Linked DNA regions of Homo sapiens. The protein of the gene in region 2 interacts with the protein of the main gene of each other region in a biochemical or structural test. Each region holds a gene or a part of one and is shown on either strand. Other genes may lie near its edges. The genes, in order: F2 and SERPING1.

Region 1 (10,176 bases), about 11 Mb from region 2:
GTCACCTTCACAGGCATCCCCTCGTTTCCCTTCATCAGGCTTGTAACCTTGAAAGAGAACAGCCGTCTGTGCTCAGGAGCATAGCTCATAGCCCAGCCACGCCCCTTCACGAGACACAGCTGGTGAGAGTCCACTTACCCCTCCAGTCATTCTTGCTGTCCCCACTTCCTCACCCTACCCATCCAATCCTAGCAAATCTTGTCGGCTCTACCTTCAGCATAGACCCCAAATCCAAACCCTTCTCACCACTTCTAGCTCGAGCTCCTGAACCCACTAGTTTCCTTCATTCTTTGCCCACCTACAGTCTATTCTCCACCCAACAGGCAGAATAATGCTTTTAAAAAGTTGGACCAGACCAGGGGAGGTGGCTCATGCCCAAGCCGGGTGGATCACTTGAGCTCAGCAGTTCAAGACCAGCCTGGGCAATATGGCAAAACCCTCTCTCTACAAAAAATTAGCTGGGCATGGTGGCACATGCCTGGAGTCCCAGCTACTCGGGAGGCTAAGAGAGGAGGATCACTTGCGCCTGGGAGGTTAAGGCTGCAGTGAGCCGTGATCATGTCACCACACTCCAGCCTGGGCAACAGAGTGAGACCCTGTCTCGAAAAAATTAATTAATGATAAAAGACCAAGAAAAAAATTTAAATTAAAAATTAAAAAATTAAAAAGTTAGACCTACAAGTCTGATGAGGATAATAATGATAGTTGCTTTTATCCAAATCTCCCCACGTATCCTCTACAAACAATACAGAACAACACTAACAACAGTAAAACCTACACAAAAAAACCACACCTTCACTAGGTGCTGTGGCTCACACCTGTAATCTCAGCACTTTGGGAGGCCAAGGCGGGCGGATCATGAAGTCAGGAGTTTAAGACCAGCCTGGCCAACGTGGTGAAACCCTGTCTCTACTAAAAATACAAAAATTAGCCAGACATGTTGGTGTGCGCCTATAATCCCAGCTACTCAGGAGACTGAGGTAGAATTGCTTGAACCTGGGAGGTGGAGGTGGAGGTTGCAGTGAGCCGGGATTGCACCACTGCACTACCGCCTGAGCGACAGAACAAGACTCTGTCTCGAAAAAAAAAAATTAGCCGGACATGGTGGCATGTACCTCTGATCCTAGCTACGTGGGAGGCTGAAGCAAGAAGAGGATTGCTTGAGCCCAGGAGTTCAAGGCTGCAGTGAGCTATGACTGTGCCACTGCACTCCAGCCTGGGCAACAGAGCAAGACCCTATCTGAAAAAAAAAAAAGCTAGCAAGAGAACAGCAAAGTAAACCAGACAAAAACGTAAGCAAACTTTTTAAGAGAAAAAAGCAGAAATTAATGAACCACAATAGAAAAATAATAGGCCTGGCCGGGCGCAGTGGCTCACGCCCGTAATACCAGCACTTTGGGAGGCTGAGGCAGGCGGATCACAAGGTCAGGAGATCGAGACCATCCTGGCGAACGCGGTGAAACCCTGTCTCTACTAAATACAAAAAATTAGCTGGGCGTGGCAGTGTACACCTGTAGTCCCAGCTACTCGGGAGGCTGAGGCAGGAGGATGGCGTGAACCCGGGAGGTGGAGCTTTCAGTGAGCCGAGATCGCACCACTGCACTCCAGCCTGGGTGACAGAGCAAGACTCTGTCTCAAAAAAAAAAAAAAAAAGGCCAGGCACGGTGGCTCACACCTGTAATCCCAGCACTTTGGGAGGCTGAGGCAGTCGGATCATGAGGTCAGGAGTTCGAGACCAGCCTGGCTAACATGGTGAAACCCCGTCTCTACTAAAAATATAAAAAAATTAGCCGGGCATGGTGGCGTGCACCTGTAACCCCAGCTACTGGGGAGGCTGAGGCAGGAGAATCACTTGAACCCAGGAGGTGGAGGTTGCAGTGAGCTGAGATCACGCCACTGCACTCCAGCCTGGGCGACAGAGTGAGACTCCATCTCAAAAAAAAGAAAAATAATAGGCCTAATAATTTCATAAATCAAATCCCTAGATATTTGTTTTGAGAAAACCGGCAAGCCATTAACTAATTTACTCAAGAAAAATAAGATATTACAAATACATAAAATAAGATACCAATAGAAAAAATTATAAGAGAATACATTGCAGCAGTCAAGAAAGATACAATAATAGACTTGAGCAAATAGGAAAACGTTTCTTATCCTTGGATAAAATGACTCAACATCAAAAATATGTCCATTCTCCCAGTTAATTTGTTGAAGTGTCATAATCCCAATAAAATTACCACCAAGCTTTTTTATAGACCTAGGCATGTTGACACTAAAGTTCATATGGAAAAACAAACATGCAAGAATTGCCAGGAAACCACTGGAAAGAAAAACTAAAAGAGAACATTAGCCTTCCCAGCTATGTACGCTAAAGCCTCTATCATTAAAACAATGTGACGCTGTACACAGACAGACAACAGACCAGGAAAGCCGAGTCGAACATCCAGAAACATACTCATCCTTAAGCATACTCTATCCATAGAAATCTAGAACGTGGGGCTGGGCACCGTGGCTCATGCTGGTAATCCCAACACTTTGGGAGGCCAAGGCAGGAGGATCACTTGAGCCCAGGAGTTCGAGACCAGCCTAGGTAACATAGCAAGACCCCGTCTCTACAAATCAAATCAAATTAGCTGGATGCAGGAAAAAATAAAACTAAAAAATAAAACCTAGGTCAGGTATGGTGGCTCACGTCTGTAATCCCAGCAGTTTGGGAGGCCAAGGCGGGAGACTTGCTCGAGCCCAGCCAGGAGTTTGAAATCAGCCTGGGCAGCACAGGGAGACTTGTCTATATTTCAAATAAATAAATGAAAATAAGATACAATCTAGAATGTGATAAAGGTGAAATCTCAAATCACTAGTTCAAAGATTGATTGATTGATTGATTGATTTTGAGATAGAGTCTCGCTCTGTTGCCAGGCTGGAGTGCAGTGGCACCATCTCGGCTCACTGCAACCTCCTCCTCCCAGGTTCAAGTGATTCCCCTGCCTCAGCCTCCCAAGTAGCTGGGATTACAGGCGCACACCACCATGCCAGGCTAATTTTTTGTATTTTAGTAGAGATGGGGTTTCACCATGTCGGCCAGGCTTGTCTCAAACTCCTGACCTTGTGATCCACCCACCTCGGCCTCCCAAAGTGCTGGGATTACAGGTGTGAGCCACCGCACCTGGCGAAACGGAGTTTTTACTCTTGTTGCCCAGGCTGGAGTGCAATGGAGGGATCTCAGCTCACTGCAACCTCCGTCTCCCAGGTTCAAGCGATTCTCCTGCCTCAGCCTCCCGAGTAGCTGGGATTACAGACATGTGCCTCCATGTCTGGCTAATTTTGTATTTTTAGCAGAGACAGGGTTTTTCCATGTTGGTCAGGCTGGTCTTGAACTCCTGACCTCAGGTGATCCGCTCGCCTCGGCCTCCCAAAGTGCTAGGATTACAGGCGTGAGCCACCGCGCCCAGCCGATTTTTTTTTTTTAATAGAAACAGGGTCTCACTCTGTTGCCCAGGCTGGAGTGCAATGGTGCGGTCATAGCTCACTGCAGTATTGAACTCCTAGGCTCAAGCAATCCTCCTAACTCAGCCTCTCAAGTAGCTGAGACTACAAGGCACATGCCACCATGCCCAGCTAATTTTTAAAATATTTTCTTTTTCCTTTTTTTTTTGAGATGGAGTCTTGCTCTGTCGCCAGGCTGGAGTTCAATGGCGTGATCTCAGCTCACTGCAACCTCCACCTCCTGGGTTCAAATGATTCCCCTGCCTCAGCCTCCTGAGTAGCTGGTACTACAGGCATGCGCCACCACACCCAGCTAATTTTTTGTATTTTAGTAGAGACGAGGGTTTCACCATGTTGGCCAGGATGGTCTCTATCTCCTGACCTCATGATCCACCTGCCTCAGCCTCCCAAAGTGCTGGGATTATAGGCGTGAGCCACCACACCTGACCAATATTTTCTTGTAGAGACAGGGTCTTGCTATGTTGTCTGGGCTGGTTTTGAATTCCTGGCCTCAAGCAATCCTGCCTCAGCCTTCCAAACTGCTGGGATTACAGGTGTGAGCTACCGCACTTGGCCAATAATTTTTAATAAAGGGTTTAGAGACAGCTAGTTAGCCATTTGGAAAATAATAAATTAGATCTATGCCTCACATCAGATACAAAAATAAACTCCATATGAGTCAGGAATCTAAGTGCAGAAAAATGAAATCAGGTACTAGAAGAAAACATGAGTGAATTCCTCAATGACCTAGCTATCAGGAAAGGCTTTTCTGTTGTTGTTTTTTGTCGTTTTGTTTTTGAGACAGAGTCTTGCTCTGTCACCCAGGCTGGAGTGCAGCGGCACGATCTCTGCTCACTGCAACCTCCGCCTCCCAGGTTCAAGCAATTCTCCAGCCTCAGTCTCCTGAGTAGCTGGGACTACAGGCATCAGCCACCACGCCCAGCTAATTTTTGTATTTTTAGTAGAGACAGGGTTTCACCATGTTGGCCAGGCTGGTCTTGAACTTCTGACCTCAGGTGATCCCCCACCTCAGCCTCTCAGAGTGCTGGGATTACAGGTGTAAGACACCACACCTGGCCAGGAAAAGTTTATCTCTGATTCAAAATCCAGATTTAATAAAATAAATGATTGATAAATTTGACTACCTAGTAATTTTTTAAACTGCATGGCCAGAAAAATTATACATGAGGTTAAAAAAACTGACAAACTAGGAGAAAACATTTGCAATGTATATCACAAATAAAGGCCTAATATAAATACGAAGAACTCACAAAAATTGATAAGAAAGGGACCAAAAAATGGGCAAAAAACCATGAAGAGACAATTCACAAAAAAATTATATAATACAAATACTAGCCAGGCACGCACCTGTGGAACCAGCTACTCGGGAGGCTGAGGCAGGAGAATCACTTGAACCAGGGAAGTGGAGGCTGCAGTGAGCCAAGATTGCACCATTGCACTCCAGCCTGGGTGACAAAGCAAGACTCTGTCTCAAAAAAAAAATTATATAAAAATGGTCCTTAGGCCAGGCGTGGTGGCTCATGCCTGTAATCTCAGCACTTTGGGAGGCCGAGGCGGGAGGATCACAAGGTAAGGAGTTCGAGACCAGCCTGGCCAATCTGGTAAAACCCTGTCTCTACTAAAAATACAAAAATTAGCGGGCATGGTGACTCGCGCCTGGAGTCCCAGCTGCTTGGGAGGCTGAAGCAGGAGAATCGCTTGAACCCAGAAGGCGGAAGTTGCAGTGAGCCAAAATCGTGCCATTGCACTCCAGCCTAGGTGACAGAGGGAGACTCCATCTCAAAAAAAAAAAAAAAAAAAAAAAAGGTCCTTAATCATATGATACGATGTTCAACCTCATTTTCAATTTGAAAGATGTCCGTTAAAACAATTTCAAGATACTATTTCTCACCTCTCAGATTGGTAAAAATTTAAAACTGTGACATTCTTTTGGCAAGGTTGTGGGGAAACAGGCATTCTCATACACTGTGATGGAAATGCAAACTGGTACAACCCTTATGGAAAGAAATTTAAAAATCTCTAAAAAATGACATACATGTTTGCCTTTTGACCTAACAACACCACTTCTAAAAATTTACTAGGAGAGGCCAGGCATGGTGGCTCACACCTGTAATCCTAGCACTTTGGGAGGCTGAGTTGGATGGATCACTTGAGCTCAGAGTTCAAGACCTGTCTGGGCAACACAGTGAGACCCAGTCTCTACAAAAAATACAAAAATTAGCTGGGCATGGTGGTGTGTGCCTGTAGCCCTGGCTACTCGGGAGGCTAAAGTGGGAGGCTGGCTTGAGTCCAGGAGGCAGAGGTTGCAGTGGGCTGAGCCCAGCCATAGGATTGGTTTTAATAGTGTTATGGATGGAGGATTTTGAAACTATATTCTAGTATTGTTCAAATAGGCAAATGCATTACAGATAATGAGGGTCAGGTTTCTCACTGTCAACAGAGAGAGTTACAAATATGGAAAAGGAAAAGCTAAAATTAATCCTGTGGTGTTAGAATGGAATTGGAGGTTTCAGTAGGAACTCATGGTTTTTTATATAGATGATAGAGATATTGGTATATGCATCATATAATTTTTTTCTGGTTCTGTCCACTAAGAGAGCCTAGAAGTAATGACATCCCACTAGCAATGTGCACACGCCAGCACCCAGATCTCAGTTCTAAATTCCACTCTTGACTACAAGGGTTCCCTGGAGAAATGGCTGGTTCCAACACTACAGTAAGGAAAGTAGGATTAACCTGAATCATTTTGCTGTGCCAGAAAGAAAGAAAGTACTCAAAGAATGACAGAACATCTCCCCAAGTCACAGAAGCCAGCTTGAAGGGACTTCCACAGGCCAAACTTGGGATCATCTGAGCATCAGAAAAAATAACAGTAGTAACAAAGTATGGCCTGGCACGGTAGAGCTCACGCCTATAATCCCAGAACCTTGGAAGGCTGAGGCGGGCGGATCACCTGAGGTCAGGAGTTCGAGACCAGCCTGGCCAACATGGTGAAACCCTGTCTCTACTAAAAATACAAAAAATTAGCCAGGCGTGGTGGCACATGCCTGTAATCCCAGCTACTCAGGAGGCTGAGGCAGGAGAATTGCTTGAACCTGGGAGGAGGACGTTGCAGTGAGCCGAGATCACGCCATTGCACTCCATCCAGCCTGGGCAACATGGGCGAAACTCCATCTCAAAAAAAAAGAAAAAAAAAGGTGAACCCTTAGAATAAAGTAAGGATCCTTAAGTCCACACTGATAGAATGAAAGGAAGGAAAGCAATAAAGTAACTAACAAATGTAGAAGGAATGACAGAATTAGATAAGTGCCATTTGGTAGTCACCCTAGTTGGGAGAAGGTTTTGATGCAAACAGAATACAAAATATCAAAGTAGGCCAGGCGTATTGGCTCACACCTGTAATCCCAGCACTTTGGGAGGCTGAGGCAGACGGATCACAAGGTCAGGAGTTCGAGACCATCCTGGCCAACATGGTGAAACCCCATCTCTACTAAAAATACAAAAATTAGCTGGGTGTGGTGGCACATGCCTGTAATCCCTGCTACTTGGGAGGCTGAGGCAGGAGAATCACTTGAACCTGGGGGATGGAGGTTGCAGTGAGCCGAGATCGCACCACACACTCCAGCCCGGGTGATAGAGGGAGACTCCATCACAAAAAAAAAAAAAAAAAAAAAACATCAAAGTGTCTCTTTACCAGATTCTTATTAATTACAAAGGGAAAAACAGAAGTTACAGCAAGAAACTTGGCAGACATTGCCTTCCTCAAGAGGTCAGAGTTAGACTCACCACATATGAGACAAATTGTTCTCATGTGCCAGTTAACAGGATGCACCAAGAAGGACATGGCACCACTGAGCCCGAACCTGACCGTGAGGAAACCTTAGACAAACCCGGATTCAGGGCCAGTGTACAAAATAACCAGACTGCACTCATCAGACATGTCAAGGTCATAGAAGACAAAGAAAGATCCTTCATTGAATCCTGGGTGAGAAACACGCTTTTTTTTTTTTTTTTCCCTATAAAAGACATTAGCAAGACTAACAAAAATTTGAATAAGGTCTATAGATTAGACAATAATATTGTATCATCATTAATTTCCTGGTTTTGGGCCAGGTGCTGTGGCTCACGCCTGTAATCCCAGCACTTTGGGAAGCCGAGGTGGGTGGATTACCCGAGGTCAGGAGTTCAAGACCAGCCTGGCCAACATGGTGAAACCCCATCACTACTAAAAATACTAAAAATACAAAAAGTTAGCCGGGCGTGGTGGCAGGCACCTGTAATTCCAAGTAAGCCGAGACCATGCCACTGCACTCTAGCCTGGGCAACAGAGCAAGATTCCATCTCAAAAAAAAAAAAAAATTTCCTGGTTTTGGCCGAGTACAGTGGTTCACGCCTGTAATCCCAGCACTTTGGGAGGCCGAGGCAGGTGGATCACCTGAGGTCAGGAGTTCAAGACCAGCCTGGCCAACATGGTGAAACCCTGTCTCTACTACAAATACAAAAATTAGCTAGGCATGGTAGTACATGCCTGTGATTCCAGCTACTCAGGAGGCTGAGGCAGGAGAATCACTTGAACCTGGGAGCAGGAGGTTGCAGTGAGCCGAGATTGTGCCACTGCACTCAAGCCTGGGTGACAGCGAAGCTATGTCAAAAAAAAATTTCCGGGTTTTAATATTTGTATTGTGGTTGCATAAGAGAACATCCTTGGGTATTTTTTTTTTTTTTGGAAATACTCAAGTATTTATGGGTAAAAAGAAACCATATTCATGATTTGCTCTCAAACTATGCATATATATATATAAAAATTCCCACACATCCACAGAATGGAGGACAATCTGGATGACAGTATACAGGAAATCTTTGTATTATTTTTACAACTTTTCTGTGAGTCTGAAATTACACTAAATTTTTTTATTTTTTACTTTTAAAGTCAGTCACATCATTTCTTAACCTGCCTCAAGCCCCTCAATAACTTCCCATCTCACTCAATAAAGTCCTTCCAGGCCCTAAAGGAAGTGGCTGTCCTCTGCCTGCCCCCCTCTCTCCCCTCACCCACTGCTGCCCCTCCTCAGCCCCCCAGGCCTCCCTACTGCTCCCCAGACAAGCCAAGAGTGCTCCCACCTCAGGGCCTTAGTGCCTGCCATGCCCCCAGCCTGCGGTGCTCCTCCCCTAGATATGCCTGCTCACTCCTTCCTTCCCCTCTTCCAGTCCCTGCCCAGACATCACCTTCTCAGGGAGGCCTTCTCCAACCTTCTCTGGCCACCTGATTGATTGATTGATCGATCGATCAATGGAGTCTTGCTGTGTTGCCCAGCTGGAGTGCAATGATGCCCGATCTCAGCTCACTGCAACCTCCGCCTCCCTGGCTCAAGCAATTCTCCTGCCTCAGCCTCCTGAGTAGCTGCGACTACAGGCATGCGTCACCATGACCAGCTAATTTTTGTATTTTTAGTAGAGACGGGGTTTCACCATGTTGGCCAGGCTGGTCTTGAACTCCTGACCTCAAGTGATCTGCCCACCTTGTCTGGCCACCCTATTTAGAAGCCCACTTCATCAGCCGTTCTCTCTCCCTGTGCTTCATTTTTCTTCACAGCACTGGTCAGGGATTGCTGTTTTAGATCTGTTTATGGATGTGCCCTCCTAGGAAGGAAGCTCTCTGAGGGCACAGACATTGTCCGTCTGGGTCCCTGCTGTATACCCTAGAACGCTGCCTGGAACGTGATAGGCGCTCAATAAATATTTGCTGAGTGACTGAATGAATGGCATTTCCCTACCCGCAGCCTCTTGCTGCTATCTGAGCTCACTGGTGACTGATACTATGCCAAGTACATTAATATATACTACTTCATTTAACCCTCCCATAACCTTATGGGATAGAGACTTTTACCTCCATTTTACAGAGGAAGAAACTGAGCCACCAAGAGGTTAGGCAACTTGCTCAAAGTCACATGGCTTGAACCCAGGCACAACTCAGTTCTCCCAGCTTGGGCCCCACTGTTCCCTCAGCCCGCCCTGCACAGACTTGCCAGCACAGAACATGTTGTCAGTGATGCGGATCCGGGTGGAGTCCTTGCAGACCGGCCGCTCCACAATGGGCAGGTTCACCACCTGCAGGACACTGGGCTGCCCCTTACCAACGTTGGCTGTCCACGTCTCCTTCAGGTTGCCCCAGCCTGTCACCCGCCCCTTGTATCCAGCCTGGAGCAAGCTTTGGGGAAGGAAGAAGGGCCTAGTGAGAGCCAACCCCCACAGGAGCCGCCTGGCCCCAACGCCATTTCTTAGAGACCAGAATCTAAAACGCCAGAGCTGGCTGGGCACAGACGTTCACGCCTGTGGTCTCGGCACTTTGGGAGGCCGAGGCGGGTGAATCACTTGAGGTCAGGGGTTCGAGACCAACCTGGCCGACACGGTGAAACCCACCAGTCTCTACTAAAAATACAAAAATTAGCCTGTAATCCCAGCTACTCAGGAGACTGAGGCAGGAGAGTCGCTTGAACCCAGGAGGTGGGGTTGCAGTGAGCCAAGATCGCACAACTACACTCCAGCCTGGGAGACAAGAGTGGAACTCCGTCAGTAAATAAATAAATATAAATAAAAAATAAAACGCCAGTACTGAAAAGAACTTTTGGGTTCACTCCAAGAAACCGAGGCCTGGAAAAGGGAAAGGGG
Region 2 (11,216 bases):
TTTTAGAATTCTCTCTGGGGAGTAATAGCTCTGTCCCCACTGCTTGTAGTAATTTGTTTGTGCCATTCCTAGGGTAATTACCAAATGGGACTTGACAGTAATCCCTCAAGATGGCAGAGGATTTACATTTTTTTGACCTCCCACTAAGTCAGACACTAGGCTGCTTCTTTTTTTTTTTTGAGACAGAGTCTTGCTCAGTCTTCCCAGGCTGGAGTGCAGTGGCATGATTTCGGCTCACTGCAACCTCTGCCTCCCGTGTTCAAGTGATTCTCCTGCCTCAGCCTCCTGAGTAGCTGGGGTTACAGGTGTGCACCACCATGCCTAGCTAATTTCTTTTTATTTTTAGTAGAGACGGGGTTTCACCATGTTAGTCAGGCTGGTCTCGAACTCCTGACCTCGTGATCTGCCCGCCTCGGCCTCCTAAAATGCTGGGATTACAGGTGTGAACCACCGCATCCGGCCTGGCTTTCTGCTTCTTAATCTTTTGAGGTAGATAGCATCATCACTATTTTACACAAGAGGACTCAAGGCTCAGAGAGGTTAAAGTGATCTGCCCAAGGTCACAGAGCTAGAAGGCAGTACTAACCACATCTACTCTAGGTCTATCTCTGATAATTTTTTTTTTTTTTTGAGACAGAGTCTCGCTCTGTCACCCAGACTGTAGTGCAATGGTGCGGTCTCGGCTCACTGCAACCTCCACCTCCTGGGTTCAAGCGATTCTCCTGCCTCAGCTGCCCAAGTAGCTGGGATTACAGGCATGCACCACCACTCCCTGATAATTTTTGTATTTTTAGTAGAGACAGGGTTTCACCATGTTGGCCAGGCTGGTCTTGAACTCCTGACCTCAGGTGATCCACCCGCCTTGGCCTCCCAAAGTGCTGGGATTACAGGCGTGAGCCACTGCGCCTAATTTCATCTTTCTTATCACCTCTCCTTGCCATGAAACATGGTTAGTGGCTGCGACCTTATTTTATATGTTCTTGTATAGTCACAGAGTTTTACAAGCAATCGTGCCTATTACATCACTGTGAAATGATGGAATGTTCAAGAATGAAAAGATACATCCCTCTACCCCACCCCCAATATATAATAGCCCATTTTTACAGCTTCTTCCCAGAGGCATGGCTTTGTAAGTGTCTGGATTGGTGACTCTTATGGGAGTGTCCAACAAATGACCTGGAGAGAATTCAAGCAGGGTCTTACCGAGCAGGACCTGGGTAAGGAGGCTGGCGATGCTGAATGGGGAAAAGGCCATGTTGGTCTCCACCTTCTTCATTGCTGAGAAGGCGTGGTAGAGCTTCAGGGAGAAATCTACCAAAGCATCCCCCAACACGGCCTCTGTTGAATGACTCTCCAAGTCAGAGCAGAGAGTAACAGGTCCTGGGCAGAAGGACCCAGTAGTGGGCTGGGTAGGAGAATCTGTTGGGAGCTGGGTAGTTGGTTGGGTGGGTTGGATGGTGGGTTGGGTGGTGGGCTCTGTGGTGGGTTGTGTGGTGGGTTCATCAGTGGTATTAGCTGTTATTTTGGTGGCTGAATTGGTTGTTGAGTTGGTTGTCGGCAAGCTGGAAACCTCCAGGATGGGTTCAACGAATAGCATCTTGGAGATAACTGTTGTTGCGACCTTCCCTTCGCCTCTGTCTTGCAAACTCTCTGGATCCTGGGAGCTGGAGCTGGTAGCATTTGGATTTGAGGAGGCTCTATCCTGTGGTTCAAGAAACTGAGTTTCATTTTTTTCTTACTACGAGGCACAGTCCTCTAAAATACTCAAAGCAGGAAGAGAAGGTGTGGATGTGGAAAATGTCCTGTACAAGAGAGTAATTTCTGACAGTGCGGCAGATGAGCAATCTGTCTTAGAACCACCACCACTAATTCCTCAGAGAAGGGGCAATACAGGGTGAGGGTGGGGGTGCACAGGAATGTGCTCTGCAGAAGATGAGGGATAGTCAGGGACTCTGTAATCTCTGACCAATTACTGCCCTGTAGGAAGTTGTTTTCCAAACAGTGAAGCTGAGTGTTGTCATTTATCTATGTTCTTGCAATTTCCTGTAAATATCTACCTGTTTGACTCACTTGCTTGGCTAGTACAGACATTTGAACTTGTGCTCCTTGATTTAGAACAGTAAATTTTTAAACTGTGGGTTGCAACCCATTAGTGGGTGTGGAAAAACAGTACACATTAGGAAGGGAACGAAGAAAGGGAAGGAGGAAAGAAGGGAGGCAGGAAGGGAGGGAGAGAGAAGTAGTATAGGCCAGCGGCTCTGAAACAATTTTGACTCCCAGGGGATATTTGGCAATGTCCAGAGACATTTTTGGTTGTCACAGGGAGACAGCAGGGAAGATGCTACCGGAATCTAGTGCGTAGAGGCTAGAGATATACTGCAAAACATCCTAAAATGCGCAGGGTAGCCCCTCAGCAATGAATTATCCAGCCCCAATGTCAACAGATCCTCCACTGAGAAACCACGCATTAGCTCCATTTCACAGGTAGAGAAACTCATACCGACACATATTAACTAGTCCAGGGTCTCACAGAAATGGGAGAAACAGCTAGGGGTCAAAACAAGGTCTCTGATTCCAAACTCCCTGCTCATAACTACATCATCTGCTGAGTATGTGATACCAACTTGCGCGTGCACACACACACACACGCACATACACACACCCCTACCTACCTTTCTCCTGGGATCCTGCACTTCTTAGCCTTATTTCTAGTCCATGACCTCCCAGACCACTGGGACCTCTCACTGCTATTGACCCCCACCCAGACCCACGTATGTTTGCTACCATTCTTCCCTGTCTTCACAGGCCCTAGCCTGGGACCACCGTCTGTGTCACAGCAGCCAAACCTCTCCTCCCCACAGCTCTTTTCTACAACAAACTCTTGCTTTGATATCACAAAATGCTTCCCATCTCCTTGCCCTATGTGATCCTCCTGCCAAGCCTGCTTGGTGGACAGGGTGGGATCTGTTTATTCAACATTTTATAAATCAGGAGGAGTAGGCTGAGAAAAGTGACGTCCTCAGGACCACGCTGCGCAGCTCCTACATGGCCCGCCAAGATTAGAACTTGCATCTGTCTGAGTCCTGAGCTCTTTCCACCATCTACGAGTGCGTGTGCAAGGATCACACTCAATGATCCCAAGAGGAGCTCTCCTCATTCCCCGGAGCCTGAAGGGTTAATCCTCAGCCACCGCCCGCACCCCGCACCATCCCGCCTCCCGTCTCCACCCCCGTCCCCCATCCCACAAGGGACCACATACCCCAGCCAGCAGCAGCAGCAGGAGGGTCAGCAGGGTCAGCCTGGAGGCCATCTGGGCGGCGACGTCAGCGGACCTGCGGAGCCAGCCAGCCTCGGAGCCAGCTCCCACCCTGGGAGCCCAGGGGCCCCCACCCCGCCCGGGGCCCGCCCCCATTCCGTCTCAGGCCCCAGTCCCTCTTAGCGAATTCCCTCCTCCTCCCTCCTGGGGCCACCTTCTCCCTGGCTCCTCCCTCTGTTTTGTTTTCCCCAAACCGCTTCCCTTTCCCGGCACCGGCTGGCCCTTCCTCTCCCCGTGGGCCCGGGTCTCTGTCCATCTGTTCAGTCGGAGGGGAGGTGGTGGGAGGGGGAGGGGGTCCTGCTTTAACCAAACAATGAGGCCAGAGGCGTGGGGGAGGGGAGGTCCTGGGGGGCTGAGCACAACAGGCCTGAGGCGGGAGGGGCTGGGGTAGGAGGAGGCAGAAGTCCCAGGTGGAAGCAAGCCTATAGAGACCCCCGAGATCAAGGCGGGCAGGAAGGCGGGGGTGAGGAGACCCCCTCCCTAGACCTCTTCACTCCATGCTTTCCACCCTACTCCCCACCCCTGCCCAGCACCAAACCTACTCCAAACTTCTGGTCACCAGGCAGCTCCAGTGCAGACTGAGTAGAGAGTCCCCCAGGGTCAGGGAGGGTGGGGTGCGGGGGGGGCAGTCTTAGCTATTGGCTGGCCCGGGACACTGCCCAGTTACAAATTAAGGAAGATTGATCGCTGGTGTGAGTTCCTGTAAATCAGGATGGGACGGAATGGGACTGACCGCTTGGTCTTCTTTGTGGGCCAGGCCAGGAATTTAGCCCAAATCCCCTGGTAGGTGGGGTGAACGGGGAAGCTTGGGTGCAGTTCTCAGCTTTACACAACCAAAGCTTCCCCCGCGTCTTCATGAGTAACAATAAAAACAGCATGTACACAAAATGTGCTCCGCAGTTTTTAAAGGAATGAACTTTTTGGAAATTGCTCACCTCCGTTATTCCTCAAAGTAACCCTTTGTGCCCCATTGTACCCATTTGATAGTTAAGATACTGAGCCTTAGAGCAGTGAAATGTCGGGCCCTGATCACCCTCATTTGGAGAAGTATTCTGAAGCCTAATCCCTGCTCCCATCTCCCCTGTGCCCTGTAGGTGTTCTGCCATTTTTGCTCGTAGAGACCCATAATCAGTAGTTCTTTGTATAACAGACAACGGATGTGAGGCACCCAGCTCAACAAGCATTCAACCTAATTAAAAAAAAAAAAAAAAAAAAAGCTAGCCGGGCACGGTGGCTCACGCCTGTAATCCCAGCACTTTGGGAGGCCGAGGTGGGTGGATCACTTGAGGTCAGGAGTTTGAGACCACTCTGGCCAATATGGGGAAACCCCGTTTCCGCTAAAAGTACAAAAATTAGCTGGGCAGTGCAGGCGCGCACATGTAGTCCCAGCTACTAGGGAGGCTGAGGCACAATCACTTGAATCTGGGAGGCAGAGGTTGCAGTGAGCTGAAATTGCACCACTGCACTCCAGCCTGGGTGACAGAGCAAGACTGTCTCAAAAAACAAATAACTAACTAAATAAATATTTAAAAACTTGAAAGCTGGGGTGTATGTGTTTGCGACTAGGGCTCCACAATAGACCTGGCTGGCTGTGTGAGCCAGCAAGTTGCTTTCCCCCTTGACGTCTGGCTGTCCTCGAAATCTGGCTGTCCTCGACATCTAGCTGTCCTCTCAGCATTGCCAGATAAAACACACGAAGTAGGCAGGCCTGGGGGTTCATACCTGTAATCCCAGCCTTTTAGGAGACTGAGGCAGGAGGATCCCTTGAGCCCAGGAGTTCAAGGCTGCAGTTAGCATTGATCATGCCACTGCACTCCAGCCTGGGCAACAGAGTAAGACACTTGCTGTCTCTAAAAAAAAAAAAAAAAACTTACATTGGGATATACTTATGGTAAAAATGCTTACATTGGAATATACTTATGGTAAAATAAATTTTGTTGTCATTGTTGTGTATCTGAAATTCAAATATAATTGGCATTTTGTATTTTTGCTAAATCTGATAACTCTGCCTCATCTGCAAAACAAACAGGTTGTCTCTGATGACCTAATATAGCTATCATGTTCTATCGTCATCTCACTGCAGGCCTATCCTCTGGCTGTGTTTGGAGCATTCAGGAAAGTTTGCTGCTAGCACCAGAACTGCTACTCTAAGGGACTGACCAAGGACAGAAACAGGAGAATATTTGTGTGTCTCCTCGGGGGTCCTTGGACAAGACCCAGAAAGAGTCTTCCCCAGCTTTGTGCTTTATTCTCTGAAGCCACTTGGGAACCTCCTAAACCATGGGAAAGTTATATAACATCAGAGCCATCGTTTGAACAGCTGCACACAAAACAACGTTTCTCCATCCCCAGTGCTCAAGCTGGTGGGCTCAAAGGGACTATGAGCTTGTGGATTCTGGGAAATGGGTCAGCCAAAGGAAAAGAAGGTGGTGGAAAGCAACCTAATTCACTGAGTGCTCACCATGCATTTACATTCATCCTCTCACTAATTCTCATCACCTATGAAGTAGGTGCTATATTAATCCCATCTTAAACAAGTTAAAATGAGGCTCAGAGAAATTAATTGATCTACCTAATATCACAAAGCCAGTAAGTGACAGAGCCAGGATGTGGACCAGGTCTGTTTGACCCAACAGTTCTTTATTAACCCTTACAAATTATTGACACACACCAGGGGCTAACCTGAAGCAGACAGCAAAGGGAATATTCTGGGTACAGCTGCAAGAGTACGATGCTTTGTGGGCCAAAGTTCCAGGGTGAAAAAGCCCCAGTGGAGAGGTTTTCCCAGCTTGTGGGTCTACCTCCTTCAGCCATCTATAATAGCTCTCTGGCCAAAGCCATTCCTGCACTCTGCACATTTAAATGATGTCTGCTTTGTGAAGTCTCCCCTGCCTGCTGAAGCTGGAGCTGAAACTGACTTAATCAGGATGTTTGCGGAATTTCTCCCTAGTGTGGATGTTGAGATATTCAATCAGTGTAAGGTTGTGAATTCAGTTCTCTTCCCACTGGGAGCAGGTCTAGGATTTCTCTGTAACAAGGACCTTTCCTTCTGGTGACTGAGGAGAGTTGAACCCACAGAATCCCTCTTCCCTCATGTTGTAGGTGCACATGGCTTCTCTCGCCTGTGAATTTCCTGATGTTGAATGAGGTACAAGTTCTCACTAAAGCTCTTCCTGTACTCAGAGCATTTTTATCAGGTTTTTTCCTAGTTGAGTCCTCTAATACTGAAGGTACAAGTTGCTGTAGCTGAACTCTCTCACATTATAGAGTGTGAAAAACTAAACACCTTTAGTTTTCCTTCTTAAGAGAAATTTTTCGGCTGGGCATGGTGGCTCATGCCTGTAATCCAGCACTTTGGGAGGCTGAGGTGGGCAGATCACTTGAGGTCAGGAGTTCGAGGTCAACCTGGCCAACATAGCAAAACCCCATCTCTACTAAAAATACAAAAATTAGCCAGGCATGCTGGTGCACGACTGTAGTACCAGCTACTTGGGAGGCTGAGGTGGGGGGATTGCTTGAACCCAGGAGGTGGAGGTTGCAGTGGGCCGAGATTGCGCCACTGCACTCCAGCCTGGGCAACAGAGTGAGACTGTCTCAAAAAAAAAGAAAAGAAAAGAAAAAAAGAAAAATTATCCAAAACTTGGAAACAGGGCAAAAGAATTCTGAGAAATCAGGGTCACTCCGTTCTTGGGACACAGAAAATGGTTGGAGGGACTATTTTCTCAACTCTCCCACAGATAGTACACAACTAGCACCACTCTAGTTTCAGAGGAGAGAAGTTGATTGATTATCAACAAATAATGCGCTGGGCAAATTAGGGCTCAGTCCTTTCTTTGGAATCTTGGTTGAGAAATGCTATTCTAGAGGAATAGAATTTTCTCTTTCTTATTTTTCTAGATTAGGGCTCAGAGTCTGTAATGTCAGATGTTGACCTGTCAAAAATGGATAAGATGCAAAGGGTTTTTGTCTGGTAGAGATGTGAATGAGATGATAATGATAACCCCAAAGGTAATGGTCTTGATGCAGGGCAGGTGAGCCCCAAAGTGGGGCTTAGCTGGTAAGCGTTCTTAGCTTTGCCCAGGAAAGAATTCAAGGGCAAGCCGGAGGTAGAAGAAAACAGTTTTTTTGAAGAGGCAGTGTTACAGCTCAGTGACTGCTCCTGCAAAGGAGGGGTACTCTGTAGGCAGAGAGTAGCAGTAGCTCAGGGCAGTTTTGCAGTCATATTTATACCCACTTTCCATTACATGCAGATTAAAAAGCAGTTTAAAGCCGGGCGCGGTGGTTCCTGCCTGTAATCCCAGCACTTTGGGAGGATAAGTTGGGTGAATCACCTGAGATCAGGAGTTTGAGACCAGGCTGGCCAACACAGTGAAGCCCCCTCTCTACTAAAAATACAAAAAATTAGCTGGCGTGCTGGCAGGCTTCTGTAATCCCAGCTATTCGGGAGGCTGAGACAGTAGAATCTCTTGAACCTGGAAGGTGGAGGTTGCAGTGAGCCGAGATCGCACCGTTGCATTCCAGTCTGGGCCACAAGAGCTAATCTCTGTCTCAAAAAACAAAACAAAACAAAACAACAACAACAAAACAAAACAAGAAGCAGTTTATGCAGAAATTTCTAGGGAAGGGAAAAGAACTTTTGGATCATCAGGTCATTGCCATGGAAAGAGGCAGTGACTCCCAGGTGTTTCCATGGCAATGGTAAACTGACATGGCGGACTGGCTGGCAAATCTTATGGAAAACTGCTTCTGCCCTGGCCCTGTTTTAGCTAGTCCTCAATCTGGTTGGTATCTGAGCCCCACCTCGGGAGTTGAGTCCTACCTCCTATTTCAGTCTTGTTGGCCTGCAGGGCAATAGCCAGTTTTGTAGGTAACTTAGCTGTGTTATTCCAGCACACACACACACACACACACACACACACACACACACACACCAGTTTCTCAAATCATTCTTTGAACCAACTTTGTCATCCTGACAGTTATCTTGTGAAGGTTCTCACTGTGTATTTGTGTGAGAATGACAGTTCTACCATTTTGAGAATTATGTTGTGGCACACCCTTTACGTGGGGCTGTTGATGCTTTGTAAGTAAGAACGGACCACAGGCTGAACTTTGTCCCTTATTTCCTACAAATACAGTAGTCCTCTCCGGAGAAGGGCACAGGTTTGGCAGCCATGAGTGAGGGAGCTGTGGGGGTTCCTGCTCCCACTGTATCCCCACCTTCTTCACTGATTCCCTTTCTCACCAGCCCTGACTCATTCACATGGGCTGTTTCCTGCCCAGCTCTCCAGGGACTGGACCTTCCCAGGAACCTCACTAGAGAGTCCTCATGCACAGTACCCTTCCACTAACGACCCTCTTCTCTTCCTCTTCCCTTCAGTCTTTAACTGGTATGAGGAGGTGGATGGGGATCAGAGATGAAGACAGAGATGAGATCCAAATAAGTGTTGAGACACAAAATCCCCAAACCTCAGGCTCACACCCTATTTGCAGATCCTGGCAGGCCGAGGAATACAAAGCTTCTTCGAGTAGAATAGAAACATTTGATGAGTCCTCATAGATATTCTAAATTGGTCCATTCAATCATTTTTCTAAGGATCTTTAAAATTATTCTTTTCCTGGGTGCAGTGGCTCATGCCTGTAATCCCAGCACTTTGGGAGGCTGAGACAGGGGGATTGTTTGAGCCCAGGAGTTTGAGAGCAGCCTGGACAACATGGTAAAACCCCGTTTCCACAAAAAATAAAAAAAATTAGCCAGGCTTGGTGGCTCATGCCTGCAGTCCCAGCTACTCAAGAGGCTGAGGTGGGAGGATTGCTTGAGCCTAGGAGTTCGAGGCTGGAGTGAGCCGTGATCACACCACTGCACTCCAGCCTGGGCGACAGAACAAGACCCTGTCTAAAAAAAAATTAAATGATTCTTTCAAAGTTATTGCTACAAAGTCATATACGTGCTTTGTAAAACTTTTCTGGCTGGGCGTGGTGGCTCACGCCTGTAATCCCAGCACTTTGGGAGACCCAAGTGGATGGATCACCTGAGGTCAGGAGTTCAAGACCAGCCTGGCCAACATGGTGAAACCCCGTCTCTACCAAAAATACAAAAATTAGGTGGACATGGTGGCACATGCCTGTAATCCCAACTACTCGGGAGGCTGAGGCAGGAGAATCGCTTGAACCCAGGAGGTGGAGTTTGCAGTGAGCCGAGATCGTGCCATTGCACTCCAGCCTGGGCAACAAGAGCAAAACTCTGTCTAACAAAACAAAACAAAACAAAACAAAACGTTTCTAACAATTCAGACACTTACAAAATTAAAAGTTACCACAGACAAAACTGCTGTTAATAATTCTGAGTGTATGCTTTTATATTTGCCTATTTATAAAATCATATCTACTTCATCTCTCCCCACACACATAATTATTACTCTTCCATAATTTCTTTTCTTTTTTTTGAGACGGGAGTCTTGCTCTGTCACCCAGGCTGGAGTGCAGTGGCCCTATCTCGGCTCACTGCAAGCGCTGTCTCCAGGGTTCACGCCATTCTCCTGCCTCAGCCTCCCGAGTAGCTGGGACTGCAGTCGCCCGCCACCACTCCCGGCTAATTTCTTTTGTGTTTTTAGTAGAGAGGGGGTTTCACCGTGTTAGCCAGGATGGGTCTCGATCTCCTGACCTCGTGATCCACCCGCCTCGGCCTCCAAAAGTGCTGGGATTACAGGCATGAGCCACTGTGCCTGGCCTAATTTCTTTTCTTAATAAAGTAGCATGGGCATTGTTCCATGTCACTGCAGGCAGCTCTATCTCATTCTTTCTTACAGCCGCACGGTATTCCATTGTATGGATGTATTACAAACTATTTCTTTGATCTCACCCTGAGAGAGACATTTGGATTGATTCCCAAACCAATCCCCTTAACTACATGCCGGTTCCAGAAGTTTCCCTCTCACTTACTATCTTTTCCACTTCTTGCACAGCAGCGTACCTGCTTTCTCTGCTACCTTTCTATTTCTAGCCTTTGTTTCCAATTCTCCGTTGCCAGCTCTGTAGATGGAAGCGCTAGGTTTGGACTGTTGACTCAGCTGTGAATTTGGCTCCATTCAGATTGTGGCCCCTTGCTTTGACCTGCTGTTTCTGCTTCCATGCACCTCTCCTGAGGGTAAAAATGCCTGCTCCACTTCCAGAAAAGCCAAAATTCACCTTGCGTTCCTCAATGCCTGTTGAGAAACAGGGAGCCACCCTCCTTGTTCTGCCCAACTTGAACATGAAGCCCCATGGTCACTTCTCCAGTTACAGACTTTTCTTTTCTTTTCTTTTCTTTTTTTTGGAGACAGAGTCTTGCTCTGTTGCCCAGGCTGGAGTGCAGTGGCATGATCTCGGCTCACTGCAAGCTCCGCCTCCCAGGTTCACGCCATTCTCCTGCCTCAGCCTCACAAGTAGCTGGGACTACAGGTGTCTGCCACCACGCCCAGCTAATTTTTTTTTTTTTTTGTATATTTAGTAGAGATGGGGTTTCACGTGTTAGCAGAGATAGAAACCCTGTCTCTACTAAAAATACAAAATTAGCTGGGTGTGGTGGTGCATGCCTGTAATCCCAGCTACTTGAGAGGCTGAGGCGGGAGAATTACTTGAACCAGGGAGGTAGAGGTTGAGCCTGGGCAACAAGAGCAAAACTCTGTCTCAAAAACAACAACAACAAAAAATTGTGACGGCACCATGTTTAAGTTCTGATATTCAGTAGACCAAGTCCTCACATTTTATTCTTCTTCAAGAAGATCTCTGCTATTCTTGATCCCTGAATTTCCATATATACTTAGAATCAGCTTACCAGGCTCCACAAAATAAAAGGGAAAAATATGTTGGGATTTTGACTGGTATTACCTTACATCTATAGATCATTTTGGGAGTGAATTGA

Evidence for each region.
Region 1: the proteins of SERPING1 (region 2) and F2 form a complex in vitro, tested with the Homo sapiens proteins (one study listed by BioGRID).

Annotation. Positions count from the first base shown.
Region 1 is NC_000011.10:46,728,919-46,739,094, reverse strand, and holds part of F2 (prothrombin preproprotein), read right to left. Parts: intron 9,716-10,176; coding exon 9,534-9,715; intron 48-9,533; coding exon 1-47. UniProt on the Homo sapiens protein: Thrombin, which cleaves bonds after Arg and Lys, converts fibrinogen to fibrin and activates factors V, VII, VIII, XIII, and, in complex with thrombomodulin, protein C. Functions in blood homeostasis, inflammation and wound healing.
Region 2 is NC_000011.10:57,590,365-57,601,580, reverse strand, and holds the start of SERPING1 (plasma protease C1 inhibitor precursor), read right to left. Parts: upstream 3,897-11,216; 5' UTR 3,859-3,896; intron 3,371-3,858; exon of another isoform or gene 3,333-3,370; 5' UTR 3,311-3,332; coding exon 3,260-3,310; intron 1,703-3,259; coding exon 1,204-1,702; intron 1-1,203. UniProt on the Homo sapiens protein: Serine protease inhibitor, which acrs as a regulator of the classical complement pathway. Forms a proteolytically inactive stoichiometric complex with the C1r or C1s proteases. May also regulate blood coagulation, fibrinolysis and the generation of kinins.